Linked DNA regions of Homo sapiens: region 1 is linked to region 2. The links come from fine-mapping of genetic effects on gene expression. A gene starts in region 2. The other region holds a variant in brackets. All regions are shown on one strand. Distances are from middle to middle. Region 1 overlaps AASDH (aminoadipate-semialdehyde dehydrogenase). Region 2 holds the start of SRP72 (signal recognition particle 72).

Evidence for each region.
Region 1: its variant is fine-mapped to the expression of SRP72 in whole blood (INTERVAL, PIP 0.94).

Annotation. Positions count from the first base shown.
Region 1 is chr4:56,334,331-56,350,642 of GRCh38, forward strand. AASDH (aminoadipate-semialdehyde dehydrogenase) reads right to left here. Exons shown (of 15, transcript NM_181806.4): 11 at 14,933-15,728; 12 at 10,797-10,960; 13 at 9,232-9,354; 14 at 8,505-8,636; 15 at 3,960-4,461. The coding sequence ends at 4,072. Among named protein-coding and RNA genes, the nearest start is that of AASDH, 45 kb to the right of the region's middle. The variant C/CA (reference allele first, on the strand shown) is at 7,780.
Region 2 is chr4:56,462,570-56,470,817 of GRCh38, forward strand. SRP72 (signal recognition particle 72) reads left to right here and starts at 5,048. Exons shown (of 19, transcript NM_006947.4): 1 at 5,048-5,175; 2 at 7,084-7,204. The coding sequence starts at 5,067. It overlaps PAICS (phosphoribosylaminoimidazole carboxylase and phosphoribosylaminoimidazolesuccinocarboxamide synthase), which reads left to right. Exons shown (of 9, transcript NM_001079524.2): 9 at 1-2,009. LOC124900706 (a long non-coding RNA gene) reads right to left here and starts at 4,989. Exons shown (of 2, transcript XR_007058126.1): 1 at 4,523-4,989; 2 at 1-424. RefSeq lists an enhancer at 4,893-5,102.

The DNA.
Region 1 (16,312 bases), 120 kb before region 2:
GTGATGTTAGGGTGTCAATTTTGGATCTTTCCTGCTTTCTCTTGTGGGCATTTAGTGCTATAAATTGCCCTCTACACACTGCTTTGAATGTGTCCCAGAGATTCTGGTATGTTGTGTCTTTGTTCTCGTTGGTTTCAAAGAACATCTTGATTTCTGCCTTCATTTCATTATGTACCCAGTAGTCATTCAGGATCAGGTTGTTCAGTTTCCATGTAGTTGAGCAGTTTTGAGTGAGTTTCTTAATCCTGAGTTCTAGTTTGATTGCACTGTGGTCTGAGAGACAGTTTGTTATAATTTCTGTTCTTTTACATTTGCTGAGGAGTGCTTTACTTCCAACTATGTGGTCAATTTTGGAATAGGTGTGGTGTGGTGCTGAAAAAAATGTATATTCTGTTGATTTGGGGTGGAGAGTTCTGTAGATGTCTATTAGGTCCGCTTGGTGCAGCGCTGAGTTCAATTCCTGGGTATCCTTGTTAACTTTCTGTCTCGATCTGTCTAAGGTTGACAGTGGGGTGTTAAAGTCTGCCATTATTATTGTGTGGGAGTCTAAGTCTCTTTGTAGGTCACTCAGGACTTGCTTTATGAATCTGGGTGCTCCTGTATTGGGTGCATATATATTTAGGATAGTTAGCTCTTCTTGTTGAATTGATCCCTTTACCATTATGTAATGGCCTTCTTTGTCTCTTTTGATCTTTGTTGGATTAAAGTCTGTTTTATCCGAGACTAGGATTGCAACCCCTGCCTTTTTTTGTTTTCCATTTGCTTGGTAGATCTTCCTCCATCCTTTTATTTTGAGCCTATGTGTGTCTCTGCACGTGAGATGAGTTTCCTGGATATAGCACACTGGTGGGTCTTGACTCTTTATCCAATTTGCCAGTCTGTGTCTTTTAATTGGAGCATTTGGTCCATTTACATTTAAAGTTAATATTGTTATGTGTGAATTTGATCCTGTCATTATGATGTTAGCTGGTTATTTTGCTCATTAGTTGATGCAGTTTCTTCCTAGGCTTGATGGTCTTTACAATTTGGCATGATTTTGCAGTGGCTGGTACCGGTTGTTCCTTTCCATGTTGAGTGCTTCCTTCAGAAGCTCTTTTAGGGCAGACCTGGTGGTGACAGAATTTCTCAGCATTTGCTTGTCTGTAAAGTATTTTATTTCTCCTTCACTTATGAAGCTTAGTTTGGCTGGATATGAAATTCTGGGTTGAAAATTCTTTTCTTTAAGAATGTTGAATATTGGCCCCCACTCTCTCCTGGCTTGTAGAGTTTCTGCCGAGAGATCCGCTGTTAGTCTGATGGGCTTCCCTTTGTGGGTAACCCGACCATTCTCTCAGGCTGCCCTTAACATTTTTTCCTTCATTTCAACTTTGGTGAATCTGACAATTATGTGTCTTGGAGTTGTTCCTCTCGAGGAGTATCTTTGTGGTGTTCTCTGTATTTCCTGAATCTGAATGTTGGCCTACCTTGCTAGATTGGGGAAGTTCTCCTGGATAATATCCTGCAGAGTGTTTTCCAACTTGGTTCCATTCTCCCTGTCACTTTCAGGTACACCAATCAGACGTAGATTTTGTCTTTTCACATAGTCCCATATTTCTTGGAGGCTTTGTTCATTTCATTCTGTTTTCTCTAAACTTCCCTTCTCGCTTCATTTCATTCATTTCATCTTCCATGGCTGATACCCTTTCTTCCATTTGATTGCATCGGCTCCTGAGGCTTCTGCATTCTTCACGTAGTTCTCCAGCCTTGGCTTTCAGCTCCATCAGCTCCTTTAAGCACTTCTCTGTATTGGTTATTCTAGTTATACATTTGTCTAAATTTTTTTCAAAGTTTTTAACTTCTTTGCCTTTGGTTTGAATTTCCTCCTGTAGCTCGGAGTAGTTTGATCGTCTGAAGCCTTCTCTCAACTCGTCAAAGTCATTCTCCGTCCAGCTTTGTTCTGTTGCTGGTGAGGAACTGTGTTCCTTTGGAGGAGGAGAGGCGCTCTGCTTTTTAGAGTTTCCAGTTTTTCTGCTCTGTTTTTTCCCCATCTTTGTGGTTTTATCTACTTTTGGTCTTTGATGATGGTGATGTACAGATGAGTTTTTGGTGTGGATGTCCTTTCTGTTTGTTAGTTTTCCTTCTAACAGATAGGGCCCTCAGCTGCAGGTCTGTTGGAGTTTGCTAGAGGTCCACTCCAGACCGTTTGTCTGGGTATCAGCAGCAGTGGCTGCAGAACAGCGGATTTTCGTGAACCACGAATGCTGCTGTCTGATCGTTCCTCTGGAAGTTTTGTCTCAGAGGAGTACCTGGCCGTGTGAGGTGTCAGTCTGCCCCTAATGGGGGGTGCCTCCCAGTTAGGCTGCTCGGGGGTCAGGGATCAGGGACCCACTTGAGGCAGTCTGCCTGTTCTCAGATCATCTCTAGCTGCATGCTGGGAGAACCACTGCTCTCTTCCAAGCTGTCAGGGACATTTAAGTCTGCAGAGGTTACTGCTGTCTTTTTGTTTGTCTGTGCCCTGCCCCCAGAGGTGGCGCCTACAGAGGCAGGCAGGCAGGCCTCCTTGAGCTGTGGTGGGCTCCACCCAGTTCAAGCTTCCCGGCTGCTTTGTTTACCTAAGCAAGCCTGGGCAATGGCAGGTGCCCCTCCCCCAGCCTCACTGCCGCCTTGCAGTTTGATTTCAAACTGCTGTGCTAGCAATCAGCGAGACTCCGTGGGCGTAGTACCCTCCGAGGCAGGTGTGGGATATAATCTCCTGGTGCGCCGTTTTTTTTAAGCCCGTTGCAAAAGCGCAGTATTAGTGTGGAAGTGACCCGATTTTCCAGGTGCCGTCTGTCACCCCTTTCTTTGACTAGGAAAGGGAACTCCCTGAACCCTTGCGCTTCCCGAGTGAGGCAATGCCTCACCCTCTTCGGCTCACGCAGTGTGCTGCACCCACTGTCCTGCGCCCACTCTCTGGCACTCCCTAGTGAGATGAACCCGGTACCTCAGATGGAAATGCAGAAATCACCTGTCTTCTGCGTCACTCACGCTGGGAGCTGTAGACCGGAGCTGTTCCTATTCGGCCATCTTGGCTGCCCGCAAAAGATCAAAATTTTAAGGAAAGGGCATTGCTAGGAACAATGAATGCCTGAAATCACCATGTATAACCATGAAATTGTACTATGTGGGGGGTGTGATATATGTGTGTTTATTTTATTCTACATTAGTACTTCATTTAAAAATAACTAAGGAACATAATTCAATAACTAGATCCTGCCTTAGAAAACCTTTTGCCATGAATGACAAATTCATGTAATAAAGACTGTTTTTAACCCACCAAGTAAGTATATTCTGTTTCTCCCCCCGGCCCCCCAGCTGGGATCTTGCTTTTTTAAAGAAAAAAACATAAAATTAGCCTAATGTATTAGGGTTCTCCATAGAAACCTAGCGATTAGGAGAGATGATGTATTATGAAAATTGGCTTAAGTGATTATGATGGAGGCTGAGAAGTACCACCATCTGCCATTTGCACGCTGGAGACCCAGGAGAGTGGTCTAAAGGCTTCAGAACCAGGAGCCCTGATGTCCAAGGGCAGGAGCAGATGGATACATCTCAGCAAGAAGACAGCATTTGCCCCTCCTCTACCTTTTCATTCTATTCAGGCCCTCATCAGATTGAACGATGCCACCCACATTGGCACACTGGTGAGGGAGGACCTTCTTTACTCAGTCTACTGATTCAAATTCAAATGCTAATCATCTTTTCCAGAAACAGCCTCACAGACAAACCCAGAAATAATGTTTTACCAGCTATCAATCATCTGAGCATCCCTTAGCCAGTCAAGCTGACATATAAATAAAGTTAACCATCACACCTAATTAAACAAAAGTGCTACTAATTATATTGATGTGTTTTGTTCTCTAACTCCTTGTAAAAGCTTCTGTCGTTCCTATGGGAAGTAAAATATAGTTGTTCTCTAATCAAGTGTAGACAAGTTTCCGTTTCTTAGCCAAAATATAATCTTCTTTAATATAAAATAAGTCCACATGATGTATAATGGTAAAATATTTTCAAATATCTCACATTTGTTATACAAATAAGGACTGTATTTGATTATTTTTGATTGCCACCCAATAAATCCAGACAATAAACATAATTATCTCTACACCCAATAATGAGCATTGATTCCAGGACCACAGGAGAAGAGAAGACTTCTCCAGGAAGTTCATAAACACTTTGCAATTGTCCACTCTGAGATTCCAAGATCCACACTTTCCCATCAGTAGATGCTGCTGCCAGCAACATTTCATTGCTGCCATTGTAGTTATGGAAAGCAAACGGTGTTGCATAGACCCTTGAAGTAGTTTCAAATTTCCACTGCAGGTGACCTTTCATGTTACAACAGTAGATAAAGCAATCATGGGAACCAAAAAATATTTTTTGCTCTGATGGTGAGGTACACGGGGATGAAAAGATTGGTCCACTGGTAGAGAACTGCCAAACCTATAACAAGTAATAAAAATAAATATAATTCATTCATCTAATTGCTCCAATTCTCCCTTAAAGCTCTATGAGGTTCTTAATGCAAATCTAAGAGATATAGGCTATTTGAATGGTAACTATACACAGACAAAATGGCTTTTTCTGAAAAGTAGCACTATCATACTAGACCTCTGTCCCAGTGGTAAAATGTAAAATCTAAGACAAAATATACTGGAGTGTTGTTACTATGTGATTCACTGCCGTGCATAATAAGTAAAATTAATTTTGAACTCCATTCAAGAGTTAGTATTATTCAGAGACACTGAGTTCAAAGGTAAAACTACATTGAGTTTTCAATATTATCTTTTTTTAATTTTTATTTATTATTATTATTTTTTTTTGAGATGGAGTCTTGCTCTGTCGCCCAGGCTGGAGTGCAGTGGCATGATCTCAGCTCACTGCATCCTCTGCTTGCCAGGTTGAAGCGCTTCTCCCGCCTCAGCCTCCCGAGTAGCTAGGCGCGTGCCACCACACCCAGGTAATTTTTTGTATTTTTAGTAGAGATGAGGTTTCACCATGTTAGCCAGGATGGTCTCGATCTCCTGACCTCGTGATCCGCCCACCTCGGCCTCCCAAAGTGCAGAGATTACAGGTGTGAGCCACCACATCCAGCCTTCAGTGTATCTTATTAAAAACTGGGCCAGGCGTGGTGTTTCATGCCTATAATCCCAGCATTTTGGGAGGCCAAGGCAGGCAGATCACCTGCAGTCAGGAGTTCAAGACCAGCTTGGCCAACATGGTGAAACCCCATCTCTATTAAAAATACAAAAATTAGCCAGGTGTGGTGGCACACACCTACAGTCCCAGCTACTGGGGAGGCTGAGGTGGGAGAACCACTTGAACCTGGGAGGCAGAGGTTGCAGTGAGCCAAGATCACACTACTGCACTCCACCCTGGGCGATAGTGAGACCTTGTTTCAAAAAAAAAAAAAAAAATTGAGACCAGTTTTCAATATATCTTCTTACAAACTATGTATCTTCTTTTCCAAATGTAGGAAAAAAGTTAATTGTGCTGAAAGGAAGAGTTTATGGGCAATGATAAACAGTTATAAGTTGTGGCCAGGCATGGTGGCTCACACCTGTAATCCCAACACTTTGGGAGGCCAAGGCAGGTGGATCACCTGAGGTCAGGAGTTCGAGACCAGCCTGGCCAACATGGTGAAACCCCATCTCTACTAAAAATACAAAAATTAGCTGGGTGTGGTGGTACACACCTGTAATCCTAGCTATTCAGGAGGCTGAGGCAGGAGAATGGCTTGAACCCGGGAGGCAGAGGTTTCAGTGAGCCAAAATTGTGCCAGTGCACTCCAGCCTGGGCAACAGAACAAGATTCCATCTCAAAAAATAAAATTAAAGAAAATAAAATTCATATGGAACCAAAAAAGACCCAGAATAGCCAAAGCAATATTGGGTAAAAAGAACAAAGCTGGAGGCATCACAGTAACTGACTTCAAAATAAGGCTAATTTAGCCAAAATGGCACTGTATTGGTATAAAAATAGATCAATGTAATAGAATGGAGAACCTAGAAATAAATCCACGTAGTTACAGCCAATGGAGTTTTGAGAAAGATGTCAAAAATACACAATGGGGAATGGACACCCCTCTTCAATGAATGGTGCTGGGAAAATTGGAGCTCTCTCTACATGCAGAAGAATAAACCAGACCCCTCTCTCTCACTGCATATAAAAATAAACTCGAGATGGATTAAAGACTTAAATTTAAGACCTAAAACTAGTTAAAACTACTAGAAGAAAACATAAGGGAATCACTTCAGGACACTGGTCTAAGCAAAGCTTTTATAGCTAAGGCCTAAAAAGTATAGGCAACAAAAACAAAAATAGTTAAGTGGGACTATATTAAGCTAAAAAGCTTCTGCACAGCAAAGGAAACAACAGAGTGAAGAGACAGCCTGTTGAATGGGAGAAAATACTTGCAAACTATTCATCCAACAAGGGACTAATATATAGAATATGAGGAACTCAAACAACACAACAGTAAACAAATCCTATTAAAAAGTGGGCAAGGGAGATGAATAGACATATCTCAAAAGAAGACATACAAATGGCTAACAGGTATATGAAAAAAACACTCAACATCACTAATGATCAGGGAAATGCAAATCAAAACCACAATGAGATATCATCTTACCAAGTTAAAATGGCTATTACTAAAAGAACATAACAAATGCTGGCAAGGATGTGGAGAAAAAGGAACTTACACTGCTGGTGGGAATGTAAATTAGGGTAGTCATTGTGGAAAACAGTATGGAGATTTCTCAAAAAACTAAGAAGAGAACTATCATATCCAACAGTCCTACTACTATTTACCCAAAGACAAAAAATCAGTATATCAAAGAGACAACCTGCACTCCCATCTCCCATGTTTACTGCAGCACAATTCACAAGAGCAAAGATATGGAATGCACTTAAGTGTCCACCAATGGATGAGTGGATAAAGAAAATGTAGTATATATAGATGCAGTGAAATACTATCAGGCCATAAAAACCAAGGAAATCATGTCATTTGCAGCAACATGGATGGAACTGGAGACTTTTATCTTTTTTTTTTTTTTTTTTTTTGGAGACAGAGTCTCGCTCTGTCACCAGGCTGGAGTGCAGTGGCACAATCTTGGCTCACTGCAACCTCCACCTCCCGGGTTCCAGCGATTCCCCTGCCTCAGCCTCCCAAGTAGCTGGGACTACAGGCATGTGCCACCACACCCAGCTAATTTTTTTTTTTTTTTTGTATTTTAGTAGAGACGGGGTTTCACCATGTTGGCCAGGATGGTCTCGATCTCCTGACTCTGTGATCCTCCCACCTCGGCCTCCCAAAGTGCTGGGATTACAGGCGTGAGCCATGATGCCCAGCCATTGGAGATTTTTATCTTAAGTGAAATTAAGCCAGGCCCAAAAAGACAAATATTGCATGTTCTCACTCATATGTGAGAGCTAAAAAAGTTGATCTCAGGGAGGAAGAAAATGGAATATTAGAAGTTGGGGGCCGGGCGTGGTGGCTCATGCCTGTAATCTCAATACTTTGGGAGGCTGAGGCAGGTGGATCACTTGAGGTCAGGAGTTCGAGACTAGCCTGGGCAACATGGTGAAACCCCGTCTCTACTAAAAATACAAAAATTAGCCAGGCATGGCAGCATGCGCCTGTAGTCCCAGCTACTCGGGAGGCTGAAGCAGGAGAATTGCTTGAACCCGTGAGGCGGAGGTTGCAGTGAGCCAAGATCACACCAATGTACTCCAGCCTGGTAACAGAGCAAGATTCTGTCT[C/CA]AAAAAAAAAAAAAAAAAAAAAAAAGAAGTTGGGGTGGGTTGGCTAATAAAAAAATAAAAACAGGTTAGTTAATAGGTAAAAACATATAGTAAGAAAAAATAAGTTATAATGTTCAGTAGCAGAGTAGGATGACTACAGCCAACAACAATATGTTGTATATTTCAGAACAGCTAAAAGAGAAGACATGAAATGATCCCAACACATAGAAATAATAAGTACTCAAGGTGATGGACACCACAAACACCCTGACTTAATCATTACACAGTCTATGATTGTAACAAAATATCACATACATACCCCATAAATAGGTACAAATGTCTGTATCAATTAAAAGAATCCAGGGGTTTTATTTAAACTTTCATAATCTCAATAGAAGTTATAATAAAACAGGCTAAAAACTGGTAATATTTTAAAAATTGGGGGAGATGACAAAAGAAGTGTAACAATGTTTGGGTAGAAATCTTTTAAATCTACTATGTCTTCTTTAAAAAATTAAGAAATCCATGGCTTCACAATTAAAATAGAACTACTTCTCAACACCGTGAGTTGAATAATGATGTTTAAAATGTTACTTCAGTTGTCACCATCTGCTTTGCCTTTAAGAAAAGTAAATTTAAAAAATATAAATAGAACTATAGATATATAAAATTTCTAGTTCTATTTTTTATATATACATTTATATATATATAAAAATGTATATATAAAAAATTTCTAGTTCTATTACCTGTTCTCCAAAGTGAGTAAAGCAGAGTAAATTCCCATCTACACAGCCAATACAAATATACTGTGAGCAACATTGTGGGGAAGAGAAGAGTGGTTTTCCACAGGAATGTTTCCAAATAACGTTCCCAGTAGCCTGTCACAGGAAAAAGCAATTCACAGCATTTTATGTCATCCTACTAATCAGTTACCCTTTAAAAAACAAACTCATACATCTCCTAGGGTTAGAACTAAAATAGCAGAAAATGCTGTAGTGGTATGCAGACATAAATGAAGCTGGTATACATATATAAAATTAATCAGTGCTATTTATGAGAACTAGGAAAAAGGCTTGCAATAAAAGCAGCAAAGAAAAAACTAGCACCTAAGAGTTATCCCTGTGATGGACATAAAGTTCTTAATATGATGAAAAAAATTTTGTCAATTTGAACCTGGGAGGCAGAGGTTGCAGTAAGCTGAGATTGCGCCACTGCACTCCAGCCTGGGTGACAGAGGGAGACTCTGTCAAAAAACAAACAAACAAACAAAAAAATACATATATATATATATACAGGAATTTAAATTTTCTTATCTTTCTAGATCTCATGTCAATCATTTTTAATGAATTCCAGTTTGGTGTATGTGGACTACTACAATTAACTGAAAACTACTCAAACTTTCAAAGCTCAAAGCAAAAATTTTACAAATTTAAAGAAAAGTAATAAAATCAATATGTATTATTTTATGCCTACAGGATTTACAGCCAGTAAAAGTCCTCCCAATGTAGCAAAATACAAATGATGTGGAATCAGGTTCAAACACGGAGAGGAAAAGACAGTTCCTCCACATTTTGACTTCCAAACACACTTCTTTCTCTGCAAATAAGAAAACAAATTAATTTGTTCTTGTTGATGGTTAACAAATCCATATAACCTACCCTTCATGATATTATGTCTGTTTAGTTAATATAAGTTTTTATCTTTAGTATAAAGTACATGCCTACTGTGGAGAATCAGATTAGTATAAAGACAAAGGACACTACCCAGAGACAACCAGTGTTAACATTTTAGCATTTTCTCATTTGATCTTTTTGGGGTATGGGTGTGTGTGTCTGGGCGCACACATCTGAGAATATGTGTATATACACACACACGATCTAATATAGCTGAGATCATTCTGAATATATAACTTGGTATCATATTTTGCTCACTGATTTTGTAAAATGATTTAAATATAATTTTAATCCATAATATCCCATATGAACATAAATAATTTCTCTCTCTACCTTATCATTGAACGTTTTTTGGAATTTCTAGGTATTATAAACAACTTAGAAATAGGCATCTTAATGCATATATTTGACTATGTTTCTGATTATTTTTGCCAGGATTTCTAAAAAACGAATTTTATTGGATCAAGGATATGATATTGTTACCTATGGTCAAATCGTTTTCATTAGAGGCCTCACTAGTTACAACCTCTTACCACTCTCATCAGCATTTAATGTTATGATGAATATGTCTTCTAATCTAACACCATTTGTTTATCTCAAGAGTTTTTAATTTTCATTCCTTTGATTATTAAATTCATGAACTATTTATATACATTTACTAGCCGTCTCTTCTTTGGGGTCCTGTGTATTTATGTCCCTTGTTTATTTTTCTATCTGCTCTACATTTGTCTTATTAATTTGTATTTGATCTTTATTTTCATTAATACTTATAAATATAAATGAATTTCCACTTTTTTTACATTTATTTCAAAAATTTTCCCAGCTTAATTTCATAATTCTTACATAACATTTTAATTTTTATGTAATCAGGTCTTAAAACATCTTATTGATATCTTCGTCATTTTTTTCTACTGTCAAGATGATAATCCTAAATTCTTTAATTCCAAAACTCTGAGTAGCACACTTATTTGTGGTAAATTTGGTAATGAAGTTAAAAAGGTCTTAAGATATTAAGACTTAATTAATGCTTTATTCTTCCCAGACCACACAAGCTTGGGAAATAGTTAATACCTGTTCCAAGGCTCAACTACACCTGACAGTTACTCACTCTTCTTCTAAGTATTGAAATTTAATGCTTCTATGCTTATGGTATTAGACTAATGAGGTGAATTTTCTTTCTTTTTTTTTTTTTTTTTTTGAGATAGAGTCTCACTCTGTCACCCAGGGTGGAATACACTGTCACAATCTTGGCTCACTGCAACCTCCACCTCCCAGGTTCACGCAATCCTCCCACCTCAGCCTCTGGAGTAACTACCATTACAGGCATGCGCCACCATGCCCAGCTAATTTGAGGTCAATCCTTACATAAATATCTAAAGCATATGCGTGCTGGTCATGAGATCCAATGTAAATGAGTCCTGTGGTTGGATCCATGGTTGCCGAGCTTTTGACAGCATCTTCAGTAGTAAACATCCAGTATTTTTCTCCACTATTACTTTTCAGAACATAAACTAATCCATTATAACAGCCTACCAAGAAACAAAGCACAAAAGATTTGATATAGATATATTACTGGAAAATAATTCTTTAGCCTACAGCATGCAATTTATATTCAGTCCTCCTCTTATACATAGGCTCTATGATAAGCTCATCTGGCTTACATTTTAGCAATGTAAAGCAGAAACTGAATTAGTAATCACTTATGTAAAATATCTATTTAGTAGGTGTATCTTATCTTTTAAAAGTACTTCACTAATTTTTTTACATACTTATTTTTAAGAAGCGCTTCACTACTGAAAAAATAATAAAGTACACTGTGGTGGAGAGAGATTTTTGACACATCTGGATTCAGATTTCATCACGACTGTCACTGGGCATTTAAATCACCCAGTGTTGCTAAGCCCCAAATTATTCATCTGCAGAATGTGGAGTCATCTACTTCCAGGGTTATTGCAACAATTCAGATAATGTGAACAAATGCCCAGTGCATAGAAGGTGTTTAAGAAGTGCTAACGTTAATAGTCAATGTTCATTGAGCATTTACTATGTGTCAGGCGTTATTCTAAGTATGTTACATCTATTAATTCATTTAATCCCCACAGTGAAGTAAGTACTATTATAACCACATTTTATAGATAACAAAATTGAAGCACAGAGAGACTAAATTACTGGGGAAAAATTACACAGCTCATATGTGGCAAACCAAGATTTGAATCTAAGAAGTCAATCTCCAGAGCCTATGCTCTTAACAACTAAACTGCTTTTCCCAAATTGCTGCTATGGATGAGAAGACAGGGCAGGAGTCCTTGACCTTGGTGTAGCCAAAATAACCTAACTGGAAGTAGAGATGGTTCAAATGTACAAAGTGAAGGTCACTCAAATTCCCTGGAGATCATGAAAATCAGGAGAAGTAGAATTTGGGGACAGCTATTTAGGGCAATTTCATTGATGCCCACTCTCTAGACAGCTCTGCCTATGGCCGCTGCCACTCATTTGAGGCCCAATTCCCAATGTACTTTTTATGCTTTTTTTTCCCCTGGCAGTTATTATTTAGTAGCAAGAGAGTAGTGGCCAGCTCAGAGATGACAAAGAGAAATGTCCTACATAGTAGAGCACCCCAGAACTCACCTGGGTAAAGATTTCTGTCAATTCAGTTTAATTCCAAAAGACAATACAAAAGAAAATCTTTTTGACCTTGGGTTAGGCAAAGATTGCTAAGATGACACCAAAAGCATGACCCATTAAAAAAATTAAATTGGACTTCATCAAAATAAAGGACTCCTCTTCAAAAGACACTATGTCACTACGCTAAAAGAATAAAACACAAGCCCCAGACTGAGAGAAAACATGCAAAACATATATCTGATAAATGATTTATATTCAGAATACATAAAACAATTCTTAAAACTCAATTTAAAAAACTTAAAAATGGGAAAAAGATTTCAATAGACACTTCACAAAAGATACACAGAGAGCAAATGAGGTTTTGAAAAGGTGCTCGTCAGACATGGTGGCTCACGTCTGTAATCCCAGCACTTTGGGAGGCTGAGGTGGGCAGATCGCTTGAGCCCAGGAGTTTGAGACCAGCGTGGACAACACACAGAAGCTCTGTCTCTACAAAAATTACAAACATTAGCCAGGTGTGGTGGTGTATCTGTAGTCCCAGCTACTCCAGAAGCTGAGGTGGGAGCATCACCTGAGCCCAGGAGTTCGAGGGTGTAGTAAGCCATGATGACGCCACTGCACTCCAGCCTGGGTGACAGAGCAAGACGCTGTCTTAAAAAAAAAAAAAAAGATGCTCAACATCACTGGTCACTAGGGAAAGGCAAATTAAAACCACAATAAAATTCCACTCATGATTATTTCAACGGCTATAACAAAAAAAAAGTTAAAGCTGACAATACCAAGTACTAGCAAAAATGTGGTGCAACTGGACTTTTCACACATTGATGGTGGAAATGCAAAACACTTTATCACTTTGGGAAACAATTCAGCAGTTTCTTATCATTCAGGTGTATTACTGAAAGTGTTCTGTAGTATAATTTTCAAAATGCCGTTGTTTAAAGGGGAAGAAGGGAAGAATCACATTCAGATTCAAGTAGATTGCTGCTAGGATAGCACAAGTAGGGAAAGCTATTCCTAAGCCTTTAGTTTGAAAAGCTTTGATGAAGATTCCATGAGCGTATAAAATGAAACCTAACATACTTGGGAGAGTAAAAAGAGAGTTGTAGTCAGGGGGAGATATTATACCCAGGACCCCCATATTCCTAATAGAGTAAAAGTCACCTATACCTTAATGAAACTAAGCAGCAGTTAGTAGCTAACCCTTAATGAGCACTTATGAAAAAATGCTCACCAGGCCAGACATGGTGGCTCACGCCTGTAATCTCAGCACTTTGGGAGGCTGAGGTGGGCAGATCGCTTGAGCCCGGGAGTTTGAGACCAGCCTGGACAACACGCAGAAGCTCTGTCTCTACAAAAATTACAAACATTAGCCAGGTGTGGTGGCACGTCCCTAGCAATGCACCAATTGATTCATAAACAGTTATCTCATTTAATCCTCCCAAAAGCTTGATAAAAGATTCTAGTGTTTTAAAATATGTCCAGGAGGCCGGGTGCAGTGGCTCACACCTGTAATCCCAGCACTTTGGGACACCGAGGCAGGTGGATCACAAGGTCAGGAGTTCAATACCAGCCTGACCAACATGGTGAAACCCCATCTCTACAAAAAATACAAAAATTAGCTGGGTGTGGTGGTATGTGCCTGTAATACCAGCTACTCAGGGGGCTGAGGCAGGAGAATCACTTGAACCCGGGAGGTGGAGGTTGTAGTGAACCAAGATCGCGCCACTGCACTCCAGCCTGGGAAACAGAGCCAGACTCCATCTCAAAAAAAAGAAAAAAAAAAAAAGTACATGAATTCTTTGATGTACTTCCTTTCAAGAGGTGGAGCCTAATTCTCTTCCCCTTGAATGTGGCCTGAACTGAGTTATGCACTTTTTTTTTTTTTGAGACAGAGTCCTGCTCTGCTTGCTCAGACCAGAGTACAGTGGCACAATCACCACTCACAGCAGCCTCAACCTACTGGGCTCTAGTGATCCTCCCATCTCAGCCATCCAAGTAGCTGGGACTACAGGCATGTACTACCATGCCTAGCTAATGTTTGTATTTTTTGTAGTGACAGAGTTTCTGCATGTTACCCAGGCTGGTCTCGAACTCCTGGGCACAAGCGATCTGTCCACCTTGGCCTCTCAAAGTGCTGATATTACAGCTGTGAGCCACCGCGCCTGGCTGAGTTATGCCCTTCTAATTAACAGAAGAAAACAAAAAATGATGGTATGGAACTTGGAACGCTAGGTCATAAAAGGTACTCTGTTCCTCTTTACTTGCTGTCTCCTGGATCACTCTGAGGAATGTTAGCTGCCATGTTGTAAGGGCAGTCAAGCAGCCTAGAGAGAGGCGTATGTGGCAAGAATTGAAGCTTCCTGCCAGAATCAGCAAAGAACTGAGGCTTTCTGCTAATAGTGATGTAAATGAGCTACCTTGGCAGATTTTCCAACCCAAGTCAAGCTTTCAGATGGCTATAGCCACGTGAAAGCCCTGAGCCAGAACTGCCAGCTAAGCTGCTCCTGAATTGCTGACCCATAGAAACTATGAGACAATAAATTTGTGTTGTTCTAGGTTGTTGAGTTTTGGGGTATTTGTGATACAGCAACACATTTTATTATTATTCCCATTTTACCCACAAGGAAAGTGAAATTCTAAGAGGTTCAGTAACTTGCCAAAGGTCACAGAGTTCATAATAGCTATACAGGTAGGTTCAAATCCAGGGACTCTTGACCCCAAGGCCCACAATATTAATCAGCACAGGGTTAACTATAATTTTTGGACAGCAACCAAACCCATCATATTTAGATTTTTAAAAAATTTAACTTGGGCCTATGAAGATTATTGTATGGTAATTCAATTTAACTCCACAAACCTCAAATTCAAAAACTTACCCACCACAATAAAGTTTCCACACTTAGATACACATGCTGAGGATTCAATTCGATCTCCCAAAATCTGTTCCCATTTTACCTTCCCAGAGTAAAAGTCAACTGCCTTCATTCTATGAGAATGGGAACCAATGTACACAGTTGTAGATGACTTATCAAAAGTGGGTATTACAACCAGCGGTGAAGCATCTACACATTTGCCTGTGTCTGACCTCCACCTCACATGTAACTCCATTTTCTGAGTCCCTATCGCAGGTTTCCCCTCTTCAGAAACTTTTGCAACACAGGATGGATCTTTTGACTTCCCAATAAGAACTGGAGAATTTAAGCCTTTCAAATTTTGAATGTTGGTCTGTGAAACTGAGTCAGAAGGACAGGCTGAAGAGCAATGTCCTAACTTTGTTAAAAACCTAGTGGAATTCAGAGACAAAATTTGACTCCCTCTGCTCAGTACAACAAAAGCATTAATCTCATTGTGGCAAGTGAAAGTCATGATGGCTTTCTGATGTAAAGATGTTCCACTGGCTTCCTCTTGATTAATGTCGCTGAGTTTCCTTTTTGTGGCACAACTCTTCCTGAATGTCACATCTTCATCTGGAACCACTGTTTGAAGGATGTGATTATAAATCTCTAAAATGGAACTGCTGAGAATAATTTCCAGAAGCCCAGGTACTGATGTACCAACAAGTTTTTCAATCTCACTGAGGAGCCGGATGGACTTTAAGGAATCTCCACCACTATTTAAGAAGAGTGACTCATCAGGAACCCTCAAAAGATCTTCTGGGAGATTCAGAGTAGACTACAGATGAGAGAATAGAGAAATATGTGACGTAAAGGTCTAAAAGCAAAAGACTTCAACATTTACAGGTAATATATAGAGATGAGAGTACCTACATTAATAATTAGAAATATAGGTCGGGTACAGTGGCTCACGCCTGTAATCCCAGTACTCTGGGAGGCCAAGGCGGGCAGATCACATGAGGTCAGGAGTTCGAGACCATCCTGGCCAACACAGTGAAACCCCACCTCCACTAAAACCACGAAAATTAGCTGGGTGCGGTGGTAGCCACCTGTAATCTCAGCTACTCGGAGGCTGAGGCAAGAGAATCGCTTGAACCCAGGGGGTGGAGGTTGCAGTGAGCCAAGATTGCGCCACTGCACTCCCGCCTGGGCAACAGAGTGAATCTCCATCTCAAAAATAATAATAATAATAACAATTAGAAATATAAAATAAATACTTTTAATAATAAAAATAAAGTTTTAAATTATTTTATTTATGTTAAAGGAGATCACTGTACTACCAATTTTGTCACAAATTCACTCTAAAAGTACAAAATATACTTCCCTTTAGAGCAGTTTTCTTACCCATAAAATTGGGACAAA
Region 2 (8,248 bases):
AATACCACCTCATAAAGTTGTGAGAATTACATGAGTCAATATATGTAAGGCCCATCATGGCACACAAATGTGTTATGTAATATCCATTTGGCAGACTGAAGAACAACAGTATGAATGGAATTCATTCACCATGAGAATTACCTGGAATTCTCTGGGCATGGTAGCTCATGCCTGTAATCCCAGCACTTTGGGTGGCCGAGGCAGGTGGATCACCTGAGATCAGGAGTTCGAGACCAGCCTGACCAACATGGAGAAACCCAGTCTCTAATAAAAATACAAAACTAGCCGGGCATGGTGGCACATTCCTGTAATCCCAGCGACTCAGGAGGCTGAGGCAGGAGAATCGCTTGAACCTGGGAAGCGGAGGTTGTGGTGAGCCGAGGTTGCGCCATTGTACTCCAGCCTGGGCAACAAGAGCAAAACTCTGTTTCAAAAAAAAAGAAAGAAAGAAAATTACCTGGAATTCAATATTGCCATCGGCTGATTTAATTTCTAATATGAAGAAAGGGGCAGTGTGATGTGCCACGGAGCATCCACAACCTGCCATTTCAGCCCAGCCAACCTTAGAAAGCCATTGAAAAGAGTTGTTTTTAATGGTGTTTTTACATCCAGCTTCCCACACCTCAAATACTTGGGGTGGAATTGTTAATCTCACATTGCAGTACAATGAAAATAGTGGAATGGAAATCAAGTTATAAAATGGAGCTAAATATTTCTTCTGCTTGCCTCTGAGTTGATAAGATACCATAAGATACTGTACATGAGGCTGGGCGCGGTGGCTCACGTCTTATTTCTTCTGCTTGCCTCTGAGTTGACAAGATACCATAAGATACTGTACATGAGGCTGGGTGCAGTGGCTCACGCCTGTAATCCCAGCACTTTGGGAGGGTGAGGTGGGCAGATCACCTGAGGTCGGGAGTTCAAGACCAGCCTGACTGACATGGAGAAACCCCCTCTTTACTAAAAATACAAAATTAGCCAGGCATGGTGGTGCATGCCTATAATTCCAACTACTCGGGAGGCTGAGGCAGGAGAATCGCTTGAACCTGGAAGGCAGAGGTTGTGGTGAGCTGAGATCGAACCATTGCACTCCAGCCTGGGCAACAAGAGCGAAAATCTGTCGCCAAAAAAAAAAAAAAAAAGATACTGTACATGGAAGCTTCTCAGGCTAAATCCATTAATATAAAAATACATTGTGGATACTGATGAGATGGCTAATTCTGTCAACTTGACTAGGCTACGGGATGCCTTGATAGCTGGTCAAACAACATTTCTAGGTACATCTGTGATGGTGTTTCTGGAAGAGACTAGCACTTGAATCAGTAGACTTGAGTAAAGAAGACTGCCTTCACCCATGTGGGTGAGCGTCATCTAATCCATTGAGGGCCTGAATAGAACAAAAAAGGGGAAGAAGGGTGAACTGCTGGGACATCCATTTCGTGCCCCCAGATGTTGGTGCTCCTGGTCCTCAGGCCTTCAGACTAGGACTTAACGTTATTGCCTCCCCTGATTCTCAAGCCCTCGGGTTTGGAACTACACTGGCTTTCCTGGGCCTTCAGCCTGCAGAAGGCAGACTGTGGGACTTCACCTCCATTTTGCAGAGCCAATTTCTCATAATCTGTACATATCCTATTGGTTCTGTATTTTTTAGAGAACAAATACAGCCTATTATGTATATATAAGACCCTGGGAATGCAAAGATGAACAAAATTAACCTTCTGCTCTCAATGAATCTTGGAAGTCTCCAGAGGCAGACAATTTCAAAACACCGTATATAGTCTTAATATGGAATTAACAATAGGGTATTGTGAATACACAAAAGTAGGAAGGACTCTGATCTCTAGAAAACAATTGTATACTGTGAATGAAAAAGACTAATTCTCCACAGTCTATACTCAATCTCTCTTACCTTTCCATAATTTTCTTCAGCAAACTTATTACCACCAAACATAGTACATGTTTATTTATTACCCATCTCTCCCAACTAGAAAATAAATGTATTACACTGGGCTGTCTTCTTTGTTGTCAGCTGTATCACAGCAACTGGTGTAATACACGGCACTGGCATATACAAGACAAACACTTGTCAGATGAATAAAAATGCAAATTCCAGGAGGTAGGGGGACACATAACTACATGGAAGTTAGAGGTGAATAGCATGCAAGGGGGCTAGGAAATAAGTATAGAGACCTATGTGAGTTGGGGAGGTGGCAAGCAGAGGCCAGATCACAAAAGCTCTTACTGCTCTTCTTTGGAGTTCGGATTTTATCGTGAGGGTAGGAAAGTGGCATCAGATACATGCTTTAAGAGATCAGTCTGGTTTTTTTCCCACCATGTGAAAACAGAAGATGCCATCTATGAATCAGAGTGGCCCCTCACCAGACAATCTTTCCATCCTTCACAATGTGAGATGTAAATTTGTTATTTAAAAAAAAAAAAACAAAACACCACTATGGTTTGGAAGATTCCTGTTTCAAAAATGGCAGGTTAAGCCCCATATTTATAGGCTGTTTGCCACAAAACTCCATTAAAATGACATAAGAAATAGAAACAAGTCCACAGCAGCAGAATTCTGAGCATTTCTAAAAGCTACAAAGTATATAGGATTAGAATGATATAGAAACGAAAATTGCCAATTCTTATATAAAGTCAATGTTCTAAAAAGTACTACTAGGACAGTGGCTCTTAACTTTTGGGAGGGGATGGTGGATATAAACACCTTTGGAGAATACAGTGGAATCTACATTTTCTCAGAATAACAAAATACAACAAAATTTTGGGTATACCCAATTTTCTCACACAACATTTTGGGTATACCATGTCATCTGGAGCCCCCACCCCCTGAAATCTAAACATAACTGGCTTGAAACCTGTGACAATTCTAGTCAGTAAAAGTCTAAAGCTCTTCTCATGATTTTTACTAATTCACAAGAATTACACCCTCCAGCACCTAGAGTTCAAGCCACCTTTCATGCTCTTTGCATTGTATATACTGGAAGGACCAGACAAAAATATGGCAGGGCACCATATGCCATATCAGGAGCTGGGCAGTTTCTGCCCTCAAGGAACTCAAGATTAGGCAAGGAATGTGAAACAAAAAATGCCAACTATGTGCCAGGCAGTATGCTAGATCCTAGGGATACTGCAGTGAGCAAGGTAAATATGGTTCCTTGGCCTCAGAACTATAGTCCATACAGAGTGAGATAACCCTTAATTATCAGTGCTCAGAAGTGGAGTCCTATAGGGAGTCTCCCAACCTTTTTGGCACCAGGGACCGGTTTCAGGGAAGACAATCTTTCCACAGGAGTTGGACAGCTGGTTTCAGTATGATTCAAGCTCATTACATTTCCCATTAGATTCTCTTAAGGAGTGAGCAACCTAGATCCTTCACATTCCCAGTTCACAATAGGGTTTGAGCTGTGAGAAGCTAATATCACAGCTGATCTGACAGGAGCTCAGGCGGTACTGCTCACTGGCCCACCGATCACCTACTGCTGTGCCGCCCGGTTCCTAACAGGCTGCAGACCAGTACAAGGGTTGGGGACCCCTGTTCTAAGAGGATGCAACCAGAAGGCTGCCCAGTCTGCAAGATCAAATGTTTCCTCAAAGTAACTTTCAACGTATAACCAGAAAGACTGAAAGACAAAAAGTAGTTAGCAAGGCCGGGCACGGTGGCTTACGCCTGTAATCCCTGTACTTTGGGAGGCTGAGAGAGGGCGGATCACTTGAGGTCAGGAGTTTGAGACCAGCTTGGCCAACACAGTGAAACCCCATCTCTACTAAAAATTCAAAAATTAACCGGGCGTGGTGGCTCATGCTACTTGGGAGGCTGAGGCAAAAGAATCGCTTTAACCCAGGAGGTGGAGATTGCAGTGAGGTTCATCCTGGGTCACAGAGCTAGACTACGTCTCAAAAAAAAAAAAAAAAAAAAAAAAAAAAAGCTAGGTTCCTGAGGGACACAGGAAGTAGTAGAAGTTGTAAAGGTCATGACGAGATATGAGTCTGAAGAGCAGGCCATTCAATGAAATACAACATTCACATCAAGTGAATCACTCACATCGTCTTGGTGTGGTGGCTCATGCCTGTAATCCCAGCACTTGGGGAGGCTGTGGTGGGAGGATTGCTTGAGCCCAGGAGTTCCAGACCAGCTTGGGCAACACGGCAAGATCCCCGTCTCAAAAAAAAAAAAAAATCACTCACATCAAGTGTACCCAACAGATATCCATTCCCTTCGTACATCTGAACACATCTTGATATTAACGGTCGCAAGCAAACCCTAATATTTTATATCTCTAGAACAAATATAGTATCCCCATTTCACAATCGGGAAAACAGACTCCCAGAAGCTAAGTAACTTGTTTATTGTCAGACATCTAGTGAGTCGCAGAGCCAGGGAACTGACCACGGGCATTTTCACCCCATTACCCTTCCAGCTTATTGCCGACTGCTCCCGAAGGGAGCGAAAAGGACAGGCAAAGGGTTTCACCAAACCCTTTGTAATGGGAGATTCTTGCCTTCTTACCTTTCCTCACGTTTGCTTCTCTGCCAGAATGTCTTCCCGCACTTTCCCCAGAACCCAAGTTCTCCTAATCATCTTTCAAGATCCCTTTCCCTCAACCACAGATGAGCCGTGCCTATTTCTCCTTCAAATGACTCCCTATGGCTTCTAGTTGGTAGTCTTTTATTTACCACCTCATAGTCCTTTTATTTATATCCCATAAATGATCGTCCGGCCCCGCACCGTGGGACCAGGACGCTGCCTCGACCATGGCGGTCTCCTGGAAACAGGCTGCTTTGAGCCGAAACTGGTGACCGTTTCCCAACCCCGTCCAGGAGTCCGACGCCTCTTTTCTCCAGGCCAACTTCAAGTGAGGTGTATCAACTCTATCCGCACAAATTTCTTGCCACGAGAGCAGAAGATTATGATCTCTGATGCTGCCTTAGGGCTGAAGACACTCCCAACTCGGCGACGCTTAGCAATCATCGACTTCCTCCTCCTCTTGGCTGCCTCGGAGATCCTGTTCCGGGGCAGAGGTCTCCCCGCCCCGCCCCTCGTCTCCTCCAAGATGGCGAGCGGCGGCAGCGGGGGGGTGTCAGTACCTGCGCTGTGGAGTGAAGTGAACCGGTATGGCCAGAACGGCGACTTCACGCGCGCTCTCAAGACCGTCAATAAGAGTAAGTGTCGGGGTGGGCACTGGGGCGGGCCCAGGCCGGCTGGAGGATGCGGCCTGTTTCCGGCGCGCGAGACCACCTCGCGCGGGAGGCACGGGAAGGGGAGACCCCCGAAACCCCCCCGTCTATTGTCCGCCCGGCTCGGGCCCTAGCGCCCGGAAGACGCAGGTCTCACTCCTCGGCTTCACCAGGCCAGCCTGGGGTCCCTGGTTGCTTACAGCCACGTGTACTTCTCTTTTTACCCTCCGCGGGAAGCGAGGGAAGGTTTTAAAGAGACCGCAGCTCCCGGAGTCCATTTCAAACTGTTTTCTTATTTGACTCCTTTGCTGCTTTATTTCACAAATATTCCAAAGTGCCTCCTTTTCTTCTTCGTCTTGAGCGCAGTGATCAGGACTCTATTGCTGAGGGAGCTTGTTCTCTTTGGCCGCTAAAGGGGGAGGAACCTGCTTGGGACACGTAGTTTAGAGGCTGGTGCTAACCAGGTGGAAGCTGTACGGGTTCTACGGGGCGAGAGGAAAGGGCTGGATCTGGATGTCAGGCCTGTCATTCCCATAGATGAGATCTCTTCAGTGTTATTAAGTTAGGAAATATGTGTGTGGAAGCACCAACACTTGAAATAATGTCGGAAGAAAAGTTTGGCCTGTTTTTTTGCCCTGTAAGGGATGATTTCGGTTTTTACCGCCTTTGGTGTGAGGTTTAATTCATCATATTCTTTTGTTCCTTACTACATACCTGGAATATGGCCATGCTGCTTAATGTTCTCGGTGGTGCGCAGTTCTTCTCTACTGAAGATACAGCCTGTGCATGTTAGATTTGGAAATGTAATTACCAAGGCAGGGCTTAGCTGTTCAGAGTAGCAGTAACCTAAAAGGTGTGTCAGTAACATGCAAAGCTATCTAAGTAATTTTCAACACTCTAGTACTGGGTTAACGTGAAAAGTAGTGATTGTGCCCACAGTGCACTTTTGGTGATTTCAGACATTGAGGAAAATAGCTACGAATTAGAATTATTTGATCCCTAAATTTGTTTGAATTAACTCTAGCCTTCCAACCAGTACTGTATACTTAGTATAGTATTTTGCAGGAATTCTTTAATCAGCAAAGATTGTCAACTTGTTTACCAGTATGTTTTCTTAATTGGTAGAAATTCTTGTGATTCTTTGAGAATTGGACTTCTGTAGTTGCACAGGAGCAAGAGTAACTATGATCCTGGTCATTTTAACACCGAACAGTTGTTAGCGTTGAAACTTGCCACCTGAGTTCTTCCTTATACTTTGGTCATCTTAGTTGAAAAGGGGAAATTTTAATGATTTTTGGAAACGTTGCCAGCAAGATAAATTGCCTTTGTATTATACTTTATAAGATTTTTCCAAAATATTCATTTCATATTGTCAGTAACCTTATTAAATAGGTAATGCTTTTCTAATCATTTTGTAGCTAAGAAAACTGAGATTTGGCTGTTAAGTGATATGCCCAATACCTCAAAGCATTTAGTGGCAAGCTTGCACCAAACCTAGGTCATTTGCTTCCAAATTCTACCTGAACTTTTTCCCTGTGAAGTAATGAACTATGTAGAATGTAGCATGCATTTCAAGATGAAATATCTGGAGAAATTGCTTCTTTCTTCTTTATTTCACTGCACTTTTTTGGTACATGTATATTGGGAATCTTTATCTCATTGAAAATTTAATCTATAACTCTCCTTATTGTCACTTCTTAAGTTAAAAGCAAAGATTAGTTGTTTTCTGGGTTTGTTTTGTTTTGTTGCTGTTTCTTCCAGTTGTTCTGACCAATTATTTCTGTTGCAATAAAAGTAGAAATTTAGCTTTCGGAGAGACAGGGTGGGAAAATTTAGTAAAAATGTGAAAAGGAAATGGATTTAAAAATGACTTTTCCTAAAATTGTTCTCTAGTACTACAGATCAACAAAGATGACGTAACTGCCCTGCATTGTAAAGTGGTATGCCTTATCCAGAATGGAAGTTTCAAGGAAGCTTTGAATGTCATCAATACTCACACCAAAGTGTTAGCCAAGTAAGTGATTCAGTTAGTTGCTTGTACAGTTATTAGAAACACTTACTATAGCTATAATCTCTTCCATGTTTTTTCCCAACTATTTGCTGATTTTTTTTAACGTTTTTTTCCTTCCTTTTTTTCCCCCCTTTTGCTTGTCAATAATGTTTCTGAACTGGAAGGAATACTAGTAACTTCTGTTTTTTTCAGCCTTAGAGAGTTTTTTTTTTTTTTTTTAACCACTGTGTTTCCTTTGAACCGCTAAGGAGGTGAACCATAGAGAGTTGTGGGGCATAATTATGAGTCGTTGGAGGATGTAGCAAGAATAACTCAGTCGAAGTTTCTTTACTGTTATACCTAGGCTCCAAAAAAATATGTATTGAAATTAAGTTTGAAGCATATTAATGGGATACTGGTTTATAAGGTGCAGAACAATATATATTATACTTCCTTTTACAAGAGGAGGAGGATATAAAAATTTATATATGCATTTGCCTGTATTTGCAAAACAAACAGTATAAAGAGAAACAATGAATAGTCATTTGTGGGAGGCCTAAGAGGGCGGATCACGAGGTCAGGGGTTTGAGACCAGACCGAGCAATATGGTGAAACCCCATGTCTACTGAAGATACAAAAAATTAGCTGGGTATGGTGGTGTGCACCTGTATTCCCAGTTACTTGGGAGGCTGAGGCAGGAGAATCACTTGAACCCAGGAGGCAGAGGCTGCAGTGAGCTGAGATCGTGCCATTGCACTCCAGCCTGGGTGACGGGGAGACTCCGTCTCAAAAAAAAAAAAAAGTCATTTGTAGGAGGTAATAGGAACAGGTTAGATTTGGGTAGCAGTGGGAATAAAGCCTCTTAGTGTATCTCTTTTTCTTTTTATATTTGAGGCGTATAAATGTGTTAGAGATTAAAAATTAATTGTAAACTTTATTAAAAATAAAAGGGAAATAGAGGCAATGCTGCTTTTCTCCTATTAAATATGTTTGCTAAAATTCAGTCTCTTGATTTTGGGCTATTTTGTGAGAAAAGAGACATTTTCAAAAACATTTTGTCAATGAGTC